2 separate regions of the Homo sapiens genome follow, and region 1 is linked to region 2. Evidence: fine-mapped QTL for protein levels in blood plasma. A gene starts in region 2. The other region holds a variant in brackets. All regions are shown on one strand. Distances are from middle to middle. Region 1 has its middle 86 kb from the start of BTC. Region 2 holds the start of BTC (betacellulin).

What was found. A credible set is the group of variants that fine-mapping cannot tell apart. PIP is the posterior inclusion probability: the model's chance that the variant is causal. Protein levels are from antibody-based Olink assays in UK Biobank. Linkage for the fine-mapping came from a reference panel and not from the study's own genotypes, which makes the PIPs less certain.
Region 1: its variant is the best candidate, but not a certain one, in a credible set for the plasma level of the BTC protein (UK Biobank, PIP 0.73).

What each region holds. Positions count from the first base shown.
Region 1 is chr4:74,704,099-74,713,531 of GRCh38, reverse strand. No RefSeq gene overlaps it. Among named protein-coding and RNA genes, the nearest start is that of BTC, 86 kb to the left of the region's middle. The variant G/A (reference allele first, on the strand shown) is at 5,125.
Region 2 is chr4:74,790,817-74,799,974 of GRCh38, reverse strand. BTC (betacellulin) reads left to right here and starts at 5,452. Exons shown (of 6, transcript NM_001729.4): 1 at 5,452-5,713. The coding sequence starts at 5,650.

The DNA.
Region 1 (9,433 bases), 87 kb after region 2:
TTTCTGCCTGCCAGTTCTGAAGACAGCGGTGGATCTCCCAGCACAGCGCTTGAGCTCTGCTAATAGACAGACTGCCTCCTCAAGTGGGTCCCTGATCCCTGTGCCTCCTGACTGGGAGGCAGCTCCCAGCAGGGGTCAACAGACACGTCATACAGGAGAGGTCCAGCTGCCATCTGGTGGGTGCCCCTCTGGGATGAAGCTTCCAGAGGAAAGAACAGGCAGCAATCTTTGCTGTTCTGCAGCCTCCACTGGTGATACCCAGGCAAACAGGGTCTGGAGCAAACTCCAGCAGACTCCAGCAGACCTGCAGCAGAGGGGCCTGACTGTCAAAAGGAAAACTAAGAAACAGAAAGGAATAGCATCAATGTCAACAAAAAAGATGTCCACACAGAAACCCCATCCAAAGGTCACCAACATGAAAGACCAAAGGTAGATAAATCCATGAAGATGAGGAAAAACCAGCACAAAAAGGCTGAAAATTCCAAAAATCAGAATGCCTCTTCTCCTCCAAAGGATCACAACTCCTCACCAGCAAGGGAACAAAACTGGATGGAGAATGAGTTTGACGAATTGACAGAAGTAGACTTCAGAAGGTGGGTAATAACAAACTCCTCCAAGCTAAAGGAGCATGTTCTAACCCAAAGCAAGGAAGCTAAGAACCTTGAAAAAAGGTTAGAGGAGTTGCTAACTAGATTAAACAGTTTAGAGAAGAATATAAATGATCTGATGGAGCTGATAAACACAGCATGAGAACCTCATGAAGCATACATAGGTATCAATAGACAAATCAATCAAGTGGGAAGAAAGGATTTCAAAGATTGAAGATAAACTTAATGAAATAAAGTGTGAAGACAAGATTAGAGAAAAAGGAATGAACAAAGCCTCCAAGAAATATGGGACTATGTGAAAAGACCAAACCCATGTTTTATTGGTGTACCTGAAAATGATGGGGTGAATGGAACCAAGTTGGAAAACACTCTTCAGGATATTATCCAGGAGAAATTCCTCAATGTAGCAAGACAGGCCAGCATTCATATTCAGAAAATGCAGAGAACACCACAAAGATACCTCTTGAGAAGAGCAACCCCAAGACACATAATTGTCAGATTCACCGAGGTAGAAATAAAAGGAAAATGTTAAGGGCAGACAGAGAGAAAGGTTGTGTTAATCACAAAGGGAAGCCCATCAGATTAACAGTGGATCTCTCTACAGAAAGCCTATAAGCCAGAAAACAGTGGGGGCCAATATTCAACATTCTTAAAGAACAGAATTTTCAACCCAGAATTTCATACCCAGCCAAACTAAGCTTCATAAGTGAAGGAGAAATAAAATCCTTCACAGACAAGAAGATGCTGAGAGATTTTGTCACCACCAGGACTGCCTTGCAAGAGCTCCTGAGGAAAGCACTAAATATGGAAAGGAACAACCGGTACCAGCCACTGCAAAAACATACCAAATTATAAAGACCATTGAAACTATGAAGAAACTGCATCAACTAAAAAGCAAAATAACCAGAAAACATCATAATGACAGAATCAAATTCACACATAACAATATTAACCTTAAATGTACATGGGCTAAACACCCCAATTAAAAGACACAGACTGACAAATTGGATAAAGAGTCAAGCCCCATTGGTGTGCTGTATTCAGGAGACCCATCTCATGTGCAAAGACACACATAGGCTCAAAATAAAGGGATGATGGAATATTTACCAAGCAAATGGAAAGCAAAAAAAAAAAAAAAAAAAAAGCAGGGTTGCAAACCTAGTCTCTGATAAAACAGACTTTAAAACAACAAAGATCAAAAAAGACAAAGAAGGGCATTACATAATGGTAAAGGGATCAATGAAACAAGAAGAGCTAACTATTCTCAATATATATGCAACCAATACAGGAGCACCCAGATTCATAAAGCAAATTCTTAGAGACCTACAAAGAGACTTAGACTCCCACACAGTAATAGTGGGAGACTTTAACACCCCACTGTCAATGTTAGACAGATCAATGAGACAGAAAATTAAGAAGGATATTCAGGACTTGAACTCAGCTCTGGACCAAGCAGACCTAATAGACATAAAAGAACTCTTCACTCCAAATCGACAGAATATACATTCTTCTCAGCACCACATCACAGTTATTCTAAAACTGACCACATAGTTGGCAGTAAAATACTCCTTAGCAAATGCAAAAGAATGGAAATCACAACAGTCTCTCAGCCTACAGTGCAATCAAATTAGAAGAAGGATTAAGAAACTCACTCAAAAACATACAACTACATGGAAACTGAAAAACCTGCTCCTGAATGACTACTGGGTAAATAACAAAATTAAGGCAGAAATAAATAAGTTCATTGAAACAAATGAGAACAAAGGCACAATGTACCAGAATCTCTGGGACACAGCTAAACAGTATGTAGAGGGAAATTTACAGCACTAAATGCCCACATGAGAAAGGGGAGAATGATCTAAAATCGACACCCTAACATCACAATTAAAAGAACTAGAGAAGCAAGAGCAAACAAATTCAAAAGCTAGTAGAAGACAAGAAATAACTAAGATCAGAGCAGAACTGAAGGAGATAGAGACATAAAAAATGCTTCAAAAAATCAAGGAATCCAGGAGCTGGTTTTTTGAAAAGTGTACCAAAATAAAAAGACCACTAGCCAGATTAATAAAGAAGAAAAGAAAGAAGAATCAAATTGACAAAAAATGATAAAGGGGATATCACCACTGATCCCACAGAAATACAAACTACCATCAGAAAATACTAAAAAAACCTCTATGCAAATAAACTAGAAAATCTAGAAGAAATGGACAAATTCCTGGACACATACACCCTTCCAAGACTAAACAAGGAAGAAGTCAAATCCCTGAAAAGACCAATAACAAGTTCTGAAATTAAGGCAGTAATTAATAGCTTACCAACCACAAAAAGCCCAGGACCATACAGAGTTACTACCAAATTCTACCAGAGGTACAAAGAGGAGCTGGTACCATTCCTTCTGAAACTATTCCAAACAATAGAAACAGAGTGACTCCTCCCTAACTCATTTTATGAGGCCAGCATCATCCTGATACCAAAACCTGGCAGAGACACAAACAAAAAAGAAAATTTCAGGCCAATATCCCTGATGAATATTGATGCAAAAATCCACAATAAAATAATGGCAAACTGAATCCAGTAGCACATCAAAAAGCTTATCCATCACCATCAAGCCGGATTCATCCCTGGGATGCAAGGCTGGTTCAACATACGCAAATCAGTAAACATAATCCATCACATAAACAGAACCAATGATAACAACCACATGATTATCTCAATAGATGCAGAAAAGGCCTTTGATAAAATTCAGTGCCCCTTCATGTGAAAAACTCTCAATAAACTAGGTACTGATGGAACGTATCTCAAAATAATAAAAGCTATTTATGACAAACCCGCAACTGATATCATACTGAATGGGCAAAAGCCAGAAGCATTCCCTTTGAAAGTCAGCACAAGACAAGGATGCCCTCTCTCACCACTCCTATTCAACATAGTATTGGAAGTTCTGGCCATGGCAATCAGGCAAGAGAAAGAAATGATAGGTATTCAAATACAAAGAGAGGAAGTCAAATTGTCTCTGTTTTCAGATGACATGATTGTATATTTAGAAAACCCCATCGTTTCAACCCCAAATCTCCTTAAGCAGATAAGCAACTTCAGCAACGTCTCAGAATACAAAAATCAATGTGCAAAAACCACAGGCATTCCTACACACCAATAATAGAAAAACAGAGAGCCAAATCATGAGAGAACTCCCATTCACAATTGCTACAAAGAGAATGAAATACCTAGGAATCCAACTTACAAGGGATGTGAAGGACCTCTTCAAGGAGAACTACAAACCACTGCTCAACCAAATAAGAGAGGACACAAATGGAAAAACATTTTATGCCCATGGATAGTAAAAATAAATATTGTGAAAATGGCCATACTGCCTAAAGCAATTTATAAATTCAGTGCTATCTCCATCAAGCTACCATTGACTTTCTTCACAGAATTAGGAAAAAACTAGTTTAAATTTCATATGGAACCAAAAAAGAGCCTGCATAGCCAAGACAATCCTAAGCAAAAAGAACAAAGCTGGAGGCATCAAGCTACCTAGCTTCAAACTATACTACAGGGCTACAGTAACAAAAACAGCATGGTACTGGTACCAAAACAGATATATAGATGAACGGAACAGAACAGAGGCCTCAGAAATAACGCCACACATCTACTACCATCTGATCTTTGACAAACCTGACAAAAACAAGCAATAGGGAAAGGATTCCCTATTTAATAAGTGGTGTTGGGAAAACTGGCTAGCCATATGCAGAAAACTGAAACTGGATCCCTTCCACACACACTATACAAAAATTAAGTCAAGATGAATTAAAGATTTAAATGTGAGACCTAAAACCATAGAAACCCTAGAAGAAAACCTAGGCAGTAGCATTCAGGCCATAGGCATGGGCAAAGACTTCATGACTAAAACACCAAAGCAGTGGCAACAAAAGCCAAAACTGACAAATGGATCTAATTAAACTAAAGAGCTTCTGCACAGCAAAAGAAACTATCATCAGAGCAAACAGGCAACCTAGAGAATGGGAGAAAATTTTTGCAATCTATCCATCTGACAAAGGGCTAATACCAGAATCTATGAGGAACTTAAACAAATTTATAAGGAAAAAACAACCCCATCAAAAAGTGAGTGAAGGCTATGACAGACACTTCTCAAAAGAAGACATTCATGCAGCCAATAAACATGAAAAAAAGCTCATCATCACTGGTCATTAGAGAAATGCAAATCAAAACTACAATGAGATACCATCTCATGCCAGTTAGAATGGCAATCATTAAAAAGTCAGGAAACAACAGATGCTGGCAAAGATGCGGAGAAATAGGAATACTTTTACACTGTTGGTGGGAGTGTAAATTAGTTCAACCATTGTGGAAGATAGTGTGGTGATTCCTCAAGGATTTAGAACCAGAAATACCATTTGACTCAGCAATCCAGTTACTGGGTATATACCCAAAGGATTATAAATCATTCTACTATAAAGACACGTGCACATATATGTTTATTGCAGCACTATTCACA[G/A]TATCAAAGACTTGGAACCCACCCAAATGCCCATCAATGATAGACTGGATAAAGAAAATGTGGTACATATATACCATGGAATACTATGCAGCCGTAAAAAAGGATAAGTTCATGTCCTTTGCAGGGACATGGATGAAGCTGGAAACCATCATTCTCAGCAAACTAACACAGCAACAGAAAACCAAATACCACATTTTCTCGCTCATAATTGGGAGCTGAACAATGAGAACACATGGACACAGGGAGGGGAACATCACACACTGGGGCCTGTTGGGGGGTGGAAGGCTAGGGGAGGGATAGCATTAGGAGAAATACCTAATGTAGATGACAGGTTGATCGGTGCATCAAACCACCATGTCACATGTATACCTATGTAAGAAACCTGCACATTCTGCACATGTATCCCAGAACTTAATGTATAATAGTAAATAAATCAATTTCACCAGGTTAAAATCAAGGTGTTGACAGGTTTGTACCTGCTCTGGGAGCTACCACAGAGGATGTTCCTGGACTGTCCCAGCTTCTGGAGGCTGTTGGCATTTTCTAGTTTGTAGGTATATCTCTTCATTCATTGTCTCAATCTCCACATCACCTTCTTCTCTCTGTGATAACTTCCTCCTCTGTCTCTCTGTTCTATGGACCCTTGTGATGGCATTTAGGGCTGGCTCAGATAATCCAAGAGTATCTCCTCATCTAAACATCCTTAACTTATTTCTGCAAAGATTTTTTTTTCAAATAGGTAATATTTATGGATTCTGGAGGTCAGTGCTGGATATCTCATTCAGTCCACTACAGCATAATATTATGCTTTGTAGTTAACTAAACTTTTATCAATTTTGATTTAGTAAGACTTTTATTTGCATATGCCAGTACCAATACATTTTTCCAGGTCTCAAACTTTCCTGTGAGTCCTTCAGAAGCTTTTATCCTGGGCACCTTGCTCATAATGATAGAGACTTTCTCCCTACCTAAAGCAAATTTGATTAAAAGAAATCGCATCACCTATAGCTAGAGCAGGTGTTTTCTTTTTTTAAAAAAAAACTTTTATTTTAACTTCAGGGTACAAGTGCAGGTATGTTACATAGGTAAACTGGTGTCACATAGGTAAACTGGTGTCATGGAGGTTTGTTGTACAGATTATTTCATCACTCAAGTATTAAGCCTAGTACTTGGGTGATGAATTACTTAGTTATTTTTCCTGATCCTCTCTTTTCTCTGACCCTCCATCCTCTGAAAGTCCCCAGAGTGTTTTGTTCCCCTCTATGTGTTCATGTATTCTCATCATTTAGCTCCCACTTATAAGTGAGAACATGTAGTACTTGCTTTTCTTTTTCTGTTTTACTTTTCTAAGAATAATGAACTCCAGCTCCATCCATGCCCCTTCAAAGGATATGATCCCATTTTTTTATGGCTGCATAGTGTTCCATGGTGTATATGTACCACATTTTCTTTTTCCAGTCTATCCTTGGTCGGCATTTAGGCTGAGTCCATGTCTTTGGTGTTTTTCTAAGAGGTATTTTGCAGAGGGAATTGCTAGGATGCGTTGGCAAAGGAGGAGACTTCTGTCTACAGAGTTCTTGAATTTCATATTTCTGTGGCAACAAATAAGAGAATTACAGAGAGAGTGAAATAGTTAATGTTAACTACAGCTCAGACAGAGAAGCATTAAACTTTAAACCTCAAACTTTAAGCAGATTGTTCCATTTGCCAGCTCTCAGGGGCTTACTGTGCTGCCAGGCACTATACACAGTCCTTTTTACTTACTAGTTCCACTGCTCAGACAATTTCTTCAAATGACGTATAATCTCTTCTTATAGATGAGGAAGCAAGGTACAGAGAGGCTAAATAATTTGTTCAAAGTCACCCAGCAAGTGGATGGCAGAGGCAGAATTTGAACCCAGGTCTGTTTAGCTATAAAGCCCAACTTATCTTGTATGTACTATGCTGTATCATTTCAAAAAAAATACATAAAGCACATGACAAAGAAATTAAAACTGTAGCCTAAATCACAAAAGATTATAACCAGAATAGAGGCTTAACCTCTGTCACCCCAACTTAGTTTTCATTCATTCTCTGAGATAGGGAAACAATAGTCGATACCATTACTTGAACTACAGATGTGTGTGGTTATTTACTGTTTGATAGGACTATATATAATTGATTTCATTATATAAGTTTTGATCTTTGCAACTAAACTTTTTCTGTAATCTTTAGTCTTTGAGTGTCTTGAATTAGAAAGAACTTGCTCAGATACCATTCATATCCAAACTTAATGTATTCTGTTAATATTAACAGTCATTATCACTGTGCCCATAGTGGATGAGCCAGGAAAACCATTATCTCATACTAAAGAATTTCCCAAATGTTGGAATCTTGTTCAATAATTATACATTTCTCTGTGCTATTTACTATAGTATTATTTACTTGATATTCCTTTATTTCCTGTGTTTTAAATTCATAGTTATTTAAAAGGCAACTATATCACTATCGTAATTAGAATATCAGCATCTCTATAAATAGAAGGCAAACAACAAATATTAATGCAACGAAAAGGAAACAATATTTTAAAATTCTGGATAGATAGTATTAACTGCCCATGGAAAAGGTTTTGGACTTGCTTTGTTATTGTTAGAAAGGGAGATGAGCAAGTCTTTGAGAGCTGGTAAATGCACAATGGCATTGACCCCAAATTTCCTCCTTGATAAAATCTGAGGATTGAATGAAATTCTCATTCAATCCCAGCAAAAGGAGTAATTTTCTCACTAGATAATCAATATACTTATGTATGTGTTGTGAACCACATGAACACATCTTGCTATCACCCGTGACTGTCCTCCGCCTTGTGGTATCAGGCTTGAAATTAAGATTCAGCATTATGTGCTTCTTTGCCATCTGAAACTGGGAGAGTTTTTAATGGCCTAATCACAAGCTCCCCCCTCCTCCACTCTACTCCTGTGGATAAAGTCCTCCAGCCAAACAACACTACTTACCAGAGGAACCAGGCACAGTGTCTGTTTATCCCTCAATAGCAGGCTTTAATTCTGGGCCTGCAACATTATTAAAACAAGCCAAGCACGTGCTTCTGCAGGAATCAAGGGTCACCTCACCCTCTTGGTACTACAAAGCCTGCCTCCCACAACTCTGCTTGTTCACTGTGTTCCCAAATGCAACTCACCCCGCCGTCCTGAGTGGAGTGCAGTGTTCTTCCCCAGTCTGTGCATCTATGTGACTGATAAACTGCTGGGATATAATCTGCCCAGTGCTGGGCGTTGTGTGTTCTGCCATCCCTATAATTCCAGGGTGGGAATGCCTCCCTCACCAATGGAGTGAAGAAGAGACAATCAAAACATACTCCAGTTTGGGAAATAGTGCCATCCTATAGAATGGCACCCAAGCAGATCATCTTCCTATTTATAGGATCCCACTCCTTCCTTAAAGGAGCACCAGATCATCACTGGAACAGAAAGACTACTACAAGTGTCATTTGGGTAGTAAGTTCTTGAGATGAGGGAATCTTTTATCTCCTCAAGAGTCTTCATTTAACCTTATGAAGAGAAACAGTGAACTTGGTTTGGCACGCCATTGGTAGGTTTTTATCTACAAGGTCTGATGTGAGGACTTTTTATGCAAATTATCTTTTCTTATTGTCCTGCCAAAGTAGTTTTAACTCCTGTGAGCCCAACACTTAGCATTAAAACCTCTTATTTTCCAAAGATGACTGACAAAATGCTAAAAGTTGTGCTGTATGCAGTTAAAAGCATAGATTCTGGATGCTCAGGAATCAGACTGCCTGGGTTCAAATACAAACCACTTATTTGCGTGTGTTTGGGCAAATTTCTGAACCTCTCTGAGCCTCAGTTTTCCTACTAACAGTACCTTTGTCATGGGATTTCAGTGAATATTAAACGAGTTACATAGAAAGAGCTTAGAATAATACCTGGTACATAGCAAATGTTCAAGAAATGCTAGCTATTATTACTAGAGAGGCAGCAACACAGTATACCTTTAACACTTGTTAAGTAAGAACCAGAGGCAGTAAGAACCTGAGGAAAAAGGAAACTTGACATGCATATACTGAGGGGAGTATGGGCATAGGGTACCATCCAGAGCTGCTGGGACACTGCAAGGGAGGTTTATAGAAGACAGAAGGCTCTGGGTGCCTGGGAAAGGAGGAAGAAATATGAAACAGGCAAAAAAGATGGGTGCAAATAAGCTTCACCACCCTTATCATTTTCATGCAGGCTGGCTTGTCATTCCACATATTTGGCATTCAAGAAAAGATGTTGGTTACAAGTTTAACAGATTGACA
Region 2 (9,158 bases):
ACTTGTTTGCATTTGTGGATTATACTCCTTGGATCTCAAAACTAACTAGTTATGTGGACCATTATTAGGTGGTAATGCTGGGGACAAAATTATTAAAAGTATCTTACAGAGATTCATAGGGACAATAATAAGAACTTTCAATATACCTTAAAGACAAAGGACAGTAACTTCAGAATATTTTGTAAGCATGATATCATATTTTCTGCTAAGTCATTTCTGAAGAGTTTACATTAGTTTTAGCGTTTTAAAAATACTGTATTTATGGACAGATGGCAGGTATATATTATAGGGCTAAAGAAATATTTCCGAAAAAATTACACTATGAGAAATATAAAAGCAATTTAAATGTATCATTAAAGGAAGACATGTAGTTATCTCTGAAAAAATCTTAAATTCCAAGGATTGTTAGACTAAAGATATAACTGAATTGTTTGGGGGAATCATAAGGACCATTAAATTATTTTGAGGTTAATAACATGTATATTGATGTCACCTTAAAACAAAGGAAGGATGAGAAACGAAGATGATACAAGAGGTAGATTTCACCTTTTTTTTAACTCCTTTAACATATCATTCTGCATCTATGAAAGATTTTTTGAAGAATTATTTTAAGCTCATCCTCCCTCTCTTCTCCAGCTTTGCTGCTTCTCATTTCTTACTCTTTCCTGTCACCATTTCTCCTTACCAAGAAGTTGGGGGAAGGAGGGAAAATGACCACGTAAAGCTGTGTTAGTTTGTTGTAAACTCATTAAGCATTCATTATTTGGCTGGGTGCGGTGGCTCACACCTGTAATCTCAGCACTTTGGGAGGCCGAGCTGGGTGGATCACCTGAGGTCGAGAGTTCAAGAACAGCATGGCCAACATGGGGAGACCCCGTATCTACTAAAAATACAAAAATTAGCTTGGCGTGGTGATGCATGTCTGCAATCCCAGTTACTTGGGAGACTGAGGCAGGAGAATCACTTGAACCCGGGAGGCAGAGTTTGCAGTGAGCCAAGATTGCGCCATTGCACTCCAGCCTGAGCAACAGAGTGAGACTCCTCTGTCTCAAAAACAACAACAACAACAACAACAACAACAAACATTCATTTTTTGAGTTAATTTTTGAATTTATTTCTTTGCATTCTGGGAAACTAGGTAGCTCATTTATTTAAATCTTCAAATCACAGTACTTTGTTTATATTCAACACGTTTTTGTATCCTGGGTTACGTGCTATCTTGGTCTCTAAAGAGAGTTGAAGGAGGAAGGAGAAATAAAAAGGATGGAGAAGGTGGTCAGAGAGGTGTAAGGGAGGTGTAAGGGCATATGAAGAGGCAAAATTGTACCCAAATCCATGGAATTTTAGCTCAGTGTTACTTTCCCAGCAGAGCCTTGCTCTGTGCCTTTCTTTCTCTACTTCAACTATTAGTAAGAGAGGGTTAGTAAGGATGCCTTTTCCTACTGGTTCTCTCTATGTACCATGTAAAATTTTATAATGACATAACAACTATCAGTGGAACATGGTGGCTCATGCTTGTAATACTAGCATTTTGGGAGGCTGAGGAGGAAAGATTACTTGAGGCCAGGAGTTCGAGACTAGTCACATAGTGAGACACCCATCTCTACCAATACTACTACTACTAGTACTCCTACTCCTACTACTATCAACTATAATTCACTGAACAGTTTCTAATACACCAGATTTTTTCCTTGAAGATATGTATTATTGGGAATCATAAAAACTGTGCAAGTCATTACCATCACATTTTATCAATGAGGAAACTGAGGTTCAGAGAGGTAAGTAGTTTGTGGTTCAGTCATTGGGTGACACAGATCCAAATTGAACAGACTGAACAGATTCCAAAACCAATTGTACATAATATTCCAGCTCTGTTGTCCCACCTAGAGGAGTGTCTACCTTGCTGGAAGTCTGGGACCAAGTAGGAAGAGATGAAGCCACTGTGGCAAGGACTTTAGGAAGAGATGTCTAGGGCCACATAGGTGCTTTCTCACTTAGCCTACAACTAGGGCCAGCACAAAAGCCCAGATTTTTTAAAATCAGAAGTTACTTTTTGAAGTATGTTTCAATATGGCCAAAGAAAAAGATCATCATGGTGAACTGAAACTAACAGGTATAATGTCACAGAGACAATTATTTTTGAGGTTTAATAACATATGTTAAGCTGCCATTTAAAAGAGATAGCAAGTCAGCCGGGCGTGGTTGCTCACGCCTGTAATCCCAGCACTTTGGGAGGCCGAGGTGGATCTCCTGAGGTCAGGAGTTCGAGACCAGTCTAGCCAACATGGTGAAACCCCATCTCTACTAAAAAAAAACCACAAAAAATTAGCTGGGTGTGGTGGCAGGTGCCAGCAATCCCCAGCTACTTGGGAGGCTGAGACAGGAGAATTGCTTGAACCCGGAGGCAGAGGTTGCAGTGAGCAGAGATCACGCCATTGCACTCCAGCCTGGGGGACAAGAGCAAGATTTTGTCTCAAAAAACAAAATAAATAAAAATAAAAGAGATACAAATCAAACACATTGAGAAATACATATAAAAAGTGGATCCCCTAGACTGAAGAGGAAGATACAAGAAAGTAGGCAGGAAAAAAAATAACTACCTCCCTCAGAACAACTAGATTATAAAATACAATTACCTGAATACAACTTTTGAGCAGTGATTTTTCACTGATACATTCTTAGAAACCAATTCAGTAGTTTTAAATAAAATATTTGAAAGTTCTCTCTATGTAACTGTACCACTAATAATCTACAATGCATGATGCTTATCATTACTATAAAAATTACAATTTTAAAAATGCCTTTCATCATTTTCATTCACCCACTCTTATTAAATAAAGTTAATGGTCATTAGGAAATTTTCCTATACTACTGAATGCCTTAAAGCCTTCATTTGGAGAATACATGTTGGCCTAGAAGGAATGCATTCCAAAATTTTCCTTTCCATCATGGCGTGTGTCTGTTTATGTGTTGTGCCCTATATGTAACTACAAGTTTATTTTGTCCTGTCCAGAAGACGGGGAGGACGGTCCCAGCTGCAGGCTGTTCTGTGTGGGAAGAGAAAAAGGCTGATGCTTAAAGGCCCTCCAAAGGAATCTACTTAAGCCTCATACCAGATTTGGGAGGACTGGTTATACCTGCCTAAACCTGGCACAGGAAGAACAGCACTCAAGCAATTCCTACCTTGGGGTTAACTAGGAATACAAGTTTCACCTTGTGACTCTGGTGTAACTTTGGTTTATTTTTCTCTTAGTAACAGCTCAGCTTGCAAATGAAAGCACTGAGACGCAACTCAGTTACATGTTTGAGGACTCAGGAAAATCAATTCTTACCTTCCACTCTTCCAAATGTAATGGTTGTATTCCAGCTTTACCATGCCCCATAAGCAAATGACTTGAGAGAGAGAGGTGGTTGGGGGCTGGGGGAGAAAAAGAAGAAGGAGAAGGAGAGGGAAGAAGAGGAGGAAGAACAGAGAGAAAGAAAGTGAGGGGAAAAAAAAGAAACAAACAAAAAAAGACAGGAAAAGTCTCTTAACATTGAAGAGATTGGATATCCAGTGTCAGAAAATTTGGATTTTCTTGGGAGTACTTATTTTATTTATGGTGGTAAATAAAGCCCTCAAGGAAGGTTATTAATTTATCTGTCCTATTTAGTATATTAAATTATACTACTTCATATTCTAGTGGCCTGAAAAAGTTAATTTACCACTTGAATGGCATAAATGATGAATACTTACACCAAGTCCTGGAATTTTCCAATGCTCAACAAACATTTAGTACTTTTTGTTTAGGTCTCGCTTTTTTTTTTTTTTATTAGTATCTACGAAAAAGGAAAACAAAATTGTAGCATTCTGTTGGGGCTAACAGGACAGCTGTTGGCTAGGCTAAATGCCATCTTGGAGTAAGAGATACTTTAACTTAGGGCACTGGTGCTGAGAGATGGAGAGAATATCAGAAAAGAAAAATGCAGGGTGGAAGTGTTGAGAGGGAGGGAGATGATGTCAAAATCCATTGGCTTCCAGTGTTTCTGCTCTTTTTAGCTGGGGTGCAGTAACCTTCCATCTTACAACTTTGGGTTTCTTTAAACTTCATGCCTGCCCTCTCTACCAATGTTTTATGAGCTGTCATGTGGGACTAGAATGGGATTCTGAAAATTAAGAGCTGATTTTTATTCCACCGGATATATCAGTTGCCTGGGGCAGTAAAATAATTTAGTTTTGAAATGAAATGTTATTCGTGGGAGACAAGTGCACAACAATTTACTTAACTTAAACAGTAGGATGAGGAGGAAGAGGCAGACACCCAAACTACATTTCATATGTAAAATAAGGCTTACATGACTTTTGGATGCTATAGAAATAAAATTTCTGTACTGAGGGGCATAATTATCCACATAAATCTTATATGAGGAACACAGACCAGTACAAAAGCAGCTGTATCTTTTGGTTATCTTGGAGGCAATATATAACCACATAAGGTAAAATTGGATGCTGCTTGCTTTCTCTAAAAGCTGTGAGGATGTCTTTCTGTTCCAGAAATTGCTTAATGCAAGTAAATGAAAATATACTGAATACATGAGTAAATTCATAAACAGAAATACAAATGAAATTTCTAAAGTAGGTCCTGGTGAGCCCCAATTTTATGAATTATTAGAAGACAATGCACCCAGAAACTAAGACACTAGCTTGAAGACTTTTTTCATTTCTTTTCTTTTTTTTTTTTTTTTTTTTTGTTGCTGATGTTGTTGTTGTTGTTGTCGTTGTTTTGAAACAGTGTCTCACTCTTGCGCCTTGGCTGGAGTGAAGTGGCTCGATCTAGGCTCATTGAAGGCTCCATCTCCCAAGCTTAAGCGATCCTCCCCACCTCAGCCTCAGGGAATGGATGGGACTGCAGGTGCACACCACCATACCCGGCTATTAATTTACTTTTGTATTTTTTGTAGAGACGAGGTTTCGCTATGGCTTCAAGACTTTAAAAGGCAACAATGACTCTTTTGAAATTGCCTGCATTATCAAATGCCTGAAGTCAACCACAATGAATGGTGAGTCTGGTTTCTCCATGACACTAGCAATCCTCTGAAATAAAGGAAGTTAGAATTCCAGAACACGTTTGGGTCTCTGACTCTTCCTCGGTGGCTTCCAGGAGTTTAGGTCAGCCTGCAGGCCCGACCGGAACCCCCGACACCCCTCCACGCGGATTCTTTACATCTCCCTCCCTACCTTGTTTACGCCCTAGGGGGTAGGGAAATGAACAGTCAGTCAGGTGAGACCCAGCAGGGGGAGTGGTGAGCTGGTCCGAGGGCAGCCCGAATATGTCCCTGGGTGTGGGTATGGGTGTGGGGCAATTTGGGTGGGAGCAGCGTGGAGGCTCCCAGGACCAAGTCCTGCGCCTCTTTGGCGGGGTGTGTGCAGGAGGAGGGGGGATAAATAGGAGGCTCCCTCCTCCCGGCGACATTCACGGAGCCGGCCGGCCTCCCGCCCTGGGTGTTTCCCTGCCTTGTAGCCAGGGTGCCAGCCTGGGAAGTAGTTTCGTTTCCTTCTGCCTCCGGGATTAGTTTCCAGGCACCCTCTCAGGCGCCCGAGGCCCGGGAAGGGGGCGAAGAAGGAGGGAGACTTGTCTAGGGGCTGCCCGGCCCGGCAGAGCGGGGTTGATGGACCGGGCCGCCCGGTGCAGCGGCGCCAGCTCCCTGCCACTGCTCCTGGCCCTTGCCCTGGGTAAGTGGCCGTGCTGGGCACTGGAAACCAGGAGGAAAGTCTGGGGCTGGAGTCGCGGGGAGGGCGAACCCTGAACCGAGCTGGCATCTGGACAAGAGGGCGCGCTGGGGCTGGCAGGCGCGGGTTGGAGAACTTTGAAGGCTGGGAGAGCGCGAGGTTAAAGATCTGGCAATTGGGCACCTGGGGCTGCACCTGCTGGAGGCAGTCCCTAGACGCGTGAGAAGGCCCGAGGGCGGAAGCGATTCCGAGGTCCTCGCTGCCAGTGCTGCGAGCAGGCCGCCAGCTGCTGACTTGTGCGCACAGCAGAGGGCCTGGCGGCGCCGGCGGGCTGTCCACCGGGGTGAGGCGCTGTGCTCGCAAGTGAGGGTCGGGGGGTGGGGGCAGGGGCGAGCAGGGAAACCCACTAAAGAAGCTCACGTGGTAGTATAGACCAAGAAGCATATCCTGCAGGAGGCAGAAGAACGGGAACTCTTTGACTGAAGGTGTGATCACCTGGCGTTAGGGAAGAGTGCCAGCGGGAGGAGGAGTAGCAGGATGCCTAGAGCCCTCCAGAGGGTCTCTCCTGCCTCCTTAGGAGTCAGAACTCACAAAGCAGAGCTGGAACTTCAGATGTGGCTGGAAGCAGGCTTCCCCTTCCCCTCCACCGAGGGAAGGTAGTGAGAAGGCTTCTAAGTAGGAAAAAATCCCAACTCTTCAAAGCTTGCTCTCTGCATCATGGTCATTTTGCGGGGCAGAGAAGGGAAGGGAAACCAGTAACATTTTCTAATCTTAGCTGGGCTGTAGACACATCTGGGTTTGGAGCATTTATGTGGTAGGAGGAGAGTCTCCACAGCTGAAGTGTCACCACGATATCACTCCTACCTTCAAGCCTGGGAAGGGGACACCACAAATGAAAAAGAATGGGAATTCCTCTTATTGAGGAAAGAGAGGGGGAGCCTAAATGAAAACTTTCATTTGACTGTGTCCTTGGAGTAAGAGAGGTGGCTAAAAAGGTACAGTGAACTTGCTTGGAGGTGGATCAGACTTAGGACCAAGGTTAGAGAAAATAAACTTATTTAACAAACGCTGAAGAGGAAGGAGTCAGTAACAATTTAGTGGTAGAGTGAATGTGTACATTCATGAAGAAGAGCAATGGGGTTGAGACTTAACCCTAGAAATAGTACTGATGCTTTTGCCAGCATTGCTTGCAAGTAGCTGACATTCTCTTCCTCCACCGTGTCTAAACTATCCAACAGTCAAAGTATTCCCTGAGAATCTGTCGTAGTCAGCAAGGTGCTGAGGTATGTAGCAATGGAGGTGGGGAAAGGGCTCATGAGATTCCTAAAATAAAACATGATTCCTGCCCTAGAACTTGCACTGAATTTGGATATGCAAGCCCAGCAGGGTAACCTGTGGAAAAATTCACGGAATCAGAAAAGGGAGAAAGAGCTCAACAGCGGGGGCTGGAATAGTGGGGAAAGGCTGAATGGAGGACACGAATGCGTGCCTTGAGGCTTGGGTAGAGTTTGCAATAGTAGAGAGGAAAGAGGGAACAGAGACAAGGGAAAAAGCATTTAGTAAAGGGTTGGCGATGCGAATGAGCATGCTTTACTGGAAAGAGTAGAATTTCTGAGAGGCAGACAGATTATGAAGAACTGAAAAAGCCAGATTAGAATATTTGGAACAGAATCAATAAGCTATTAAACACACACCATCACAGGGCTTGACTGGGAGTGATATGATGCAAACAATGGTTTAAAGGTGATAAATCTGTCAGTGAGGTGCAGTATAGGAAGGGGGGGCGCCTGTGGGCCAGAGGACCTGATTGTCTCGTAGGTATAATCTGGGCATGAGCTACTTGGGGCCTAAATTAGGGTGATGTTTTAGCAGAGGTGTCATAGTAGAAATGACTATTGAAAGTCGATGGACATTCTTTCCCCTTTACTATCACAAAACTTGTCAAAAGACAGAAATGAAAATCAAAAAGCAAAACTCGAATCCAGTGCTATTGTACACTCAGGGTAACCTAAATGTACAACCGCCCTGTTAAATGATTGGCTTGGGAAATTGAATTTGGTCTCTAGATCCCCTTAAAGCTCTATTTCTTGCAAAATGCTAAGGAACGTAATTTGTTGGCATCGCTGTTTCCATTAAGTGGCCCTATTTCTGTCATACACACTTTACTTTTAAGTCCCCTTCCTAAATTATGTCACATGTTGTTCTATTTACTTTTTGAAAAGAATGTGAGCAATAAGATGCATGAGACACTAGTGTTTGTGTGTGTGTGTGTGTGTGTGTGTGTGTGTGTGTGTGAGATGGTGGAAATGCGATGAGAGTGGGCATTGAGCAGACATGAGCCCTGGTTCCAGCTCTACCACTTCATGACTCCGAGATGTCTGTAAGTTACAACTTTCTGGGCATTGTTTTTCTAATTTGTAAAATGAAGAGGTTTCATTAGATGGTGATGCCCTTTCCATGTCACATTCTTTTCAAAAAGTAAACAAAATAACATGTGATTTAAATTAGAAATGGCTTATGTCTATTACAAATGTAGATGCTCCTTAAATACATCTGGCATTTAGTAGATGCATCTTTACAGGATAATTTCCATTCTAACATATGCAAATTAGGTACTACTTTCTTTGAGAAATTTTATAAAGACAGAAGTGGGGTTGGAGATATAAAAAGAAGGTATACCATAAGCAGATTATATGGTACAAATACATTTAATATAAATATAAATTACACGTTTATGTGTTATCGATATTCTTTATATGCATTAATTTGGTTTAATTTTCTAAAACTGTTTAAAGGCATTTTCTAAGTCAGTAGAAATCCTGAGCCATTTAATCTTACTTTCTCAAAAAATGAGATTTTCCAAAATGGGCTCGTATTTCTCTACTGTATTTTCTTTTTCTTTTTCTTTTTCTTTTTTCTTTTTTTGAGACAGTCTCACTCTTTCGCTCAGGCTCAGTTACAGTGGCATGATCTCAGCTCACTGCAACCTCCGCCTCCAGGGCTCAAGTGACTCTCCTGTCTCAGCCTCTCGAGTAGCTGGGACAACAGGCACTCGCCACCACGCCCAGCTAATTATTGTATTTTTTGAAGAGACGGGGTTTTGGCATGTTGGCCAGGCTGGTCTTAAACTCCTGGTCTCAAGAGATCGTAGCAGATAAATATTTGTTGCTGAATTAGGTAGGGAGAGATAGGACATTCAAGTGCAGAATGTCCTGTCTAGGGAGAGATAGGACACTCCAGTGCAGAGACGTTGCGTTGCATATAACAGGAAAAACCAATACTGGAAACCATTTCTTTTGACTTATTTAAAAAGCATGTAAGCTCATCCTAGCTGTCTCCTACACCTTTGCTTTCCCTACTGCCTACCCATACATCTGTGCCATCCCTGGCTCTGGCTATTCTCTGACAGATTCTTGGACTCCTGGCTCTTCCTTGCTTCCAGGAAACC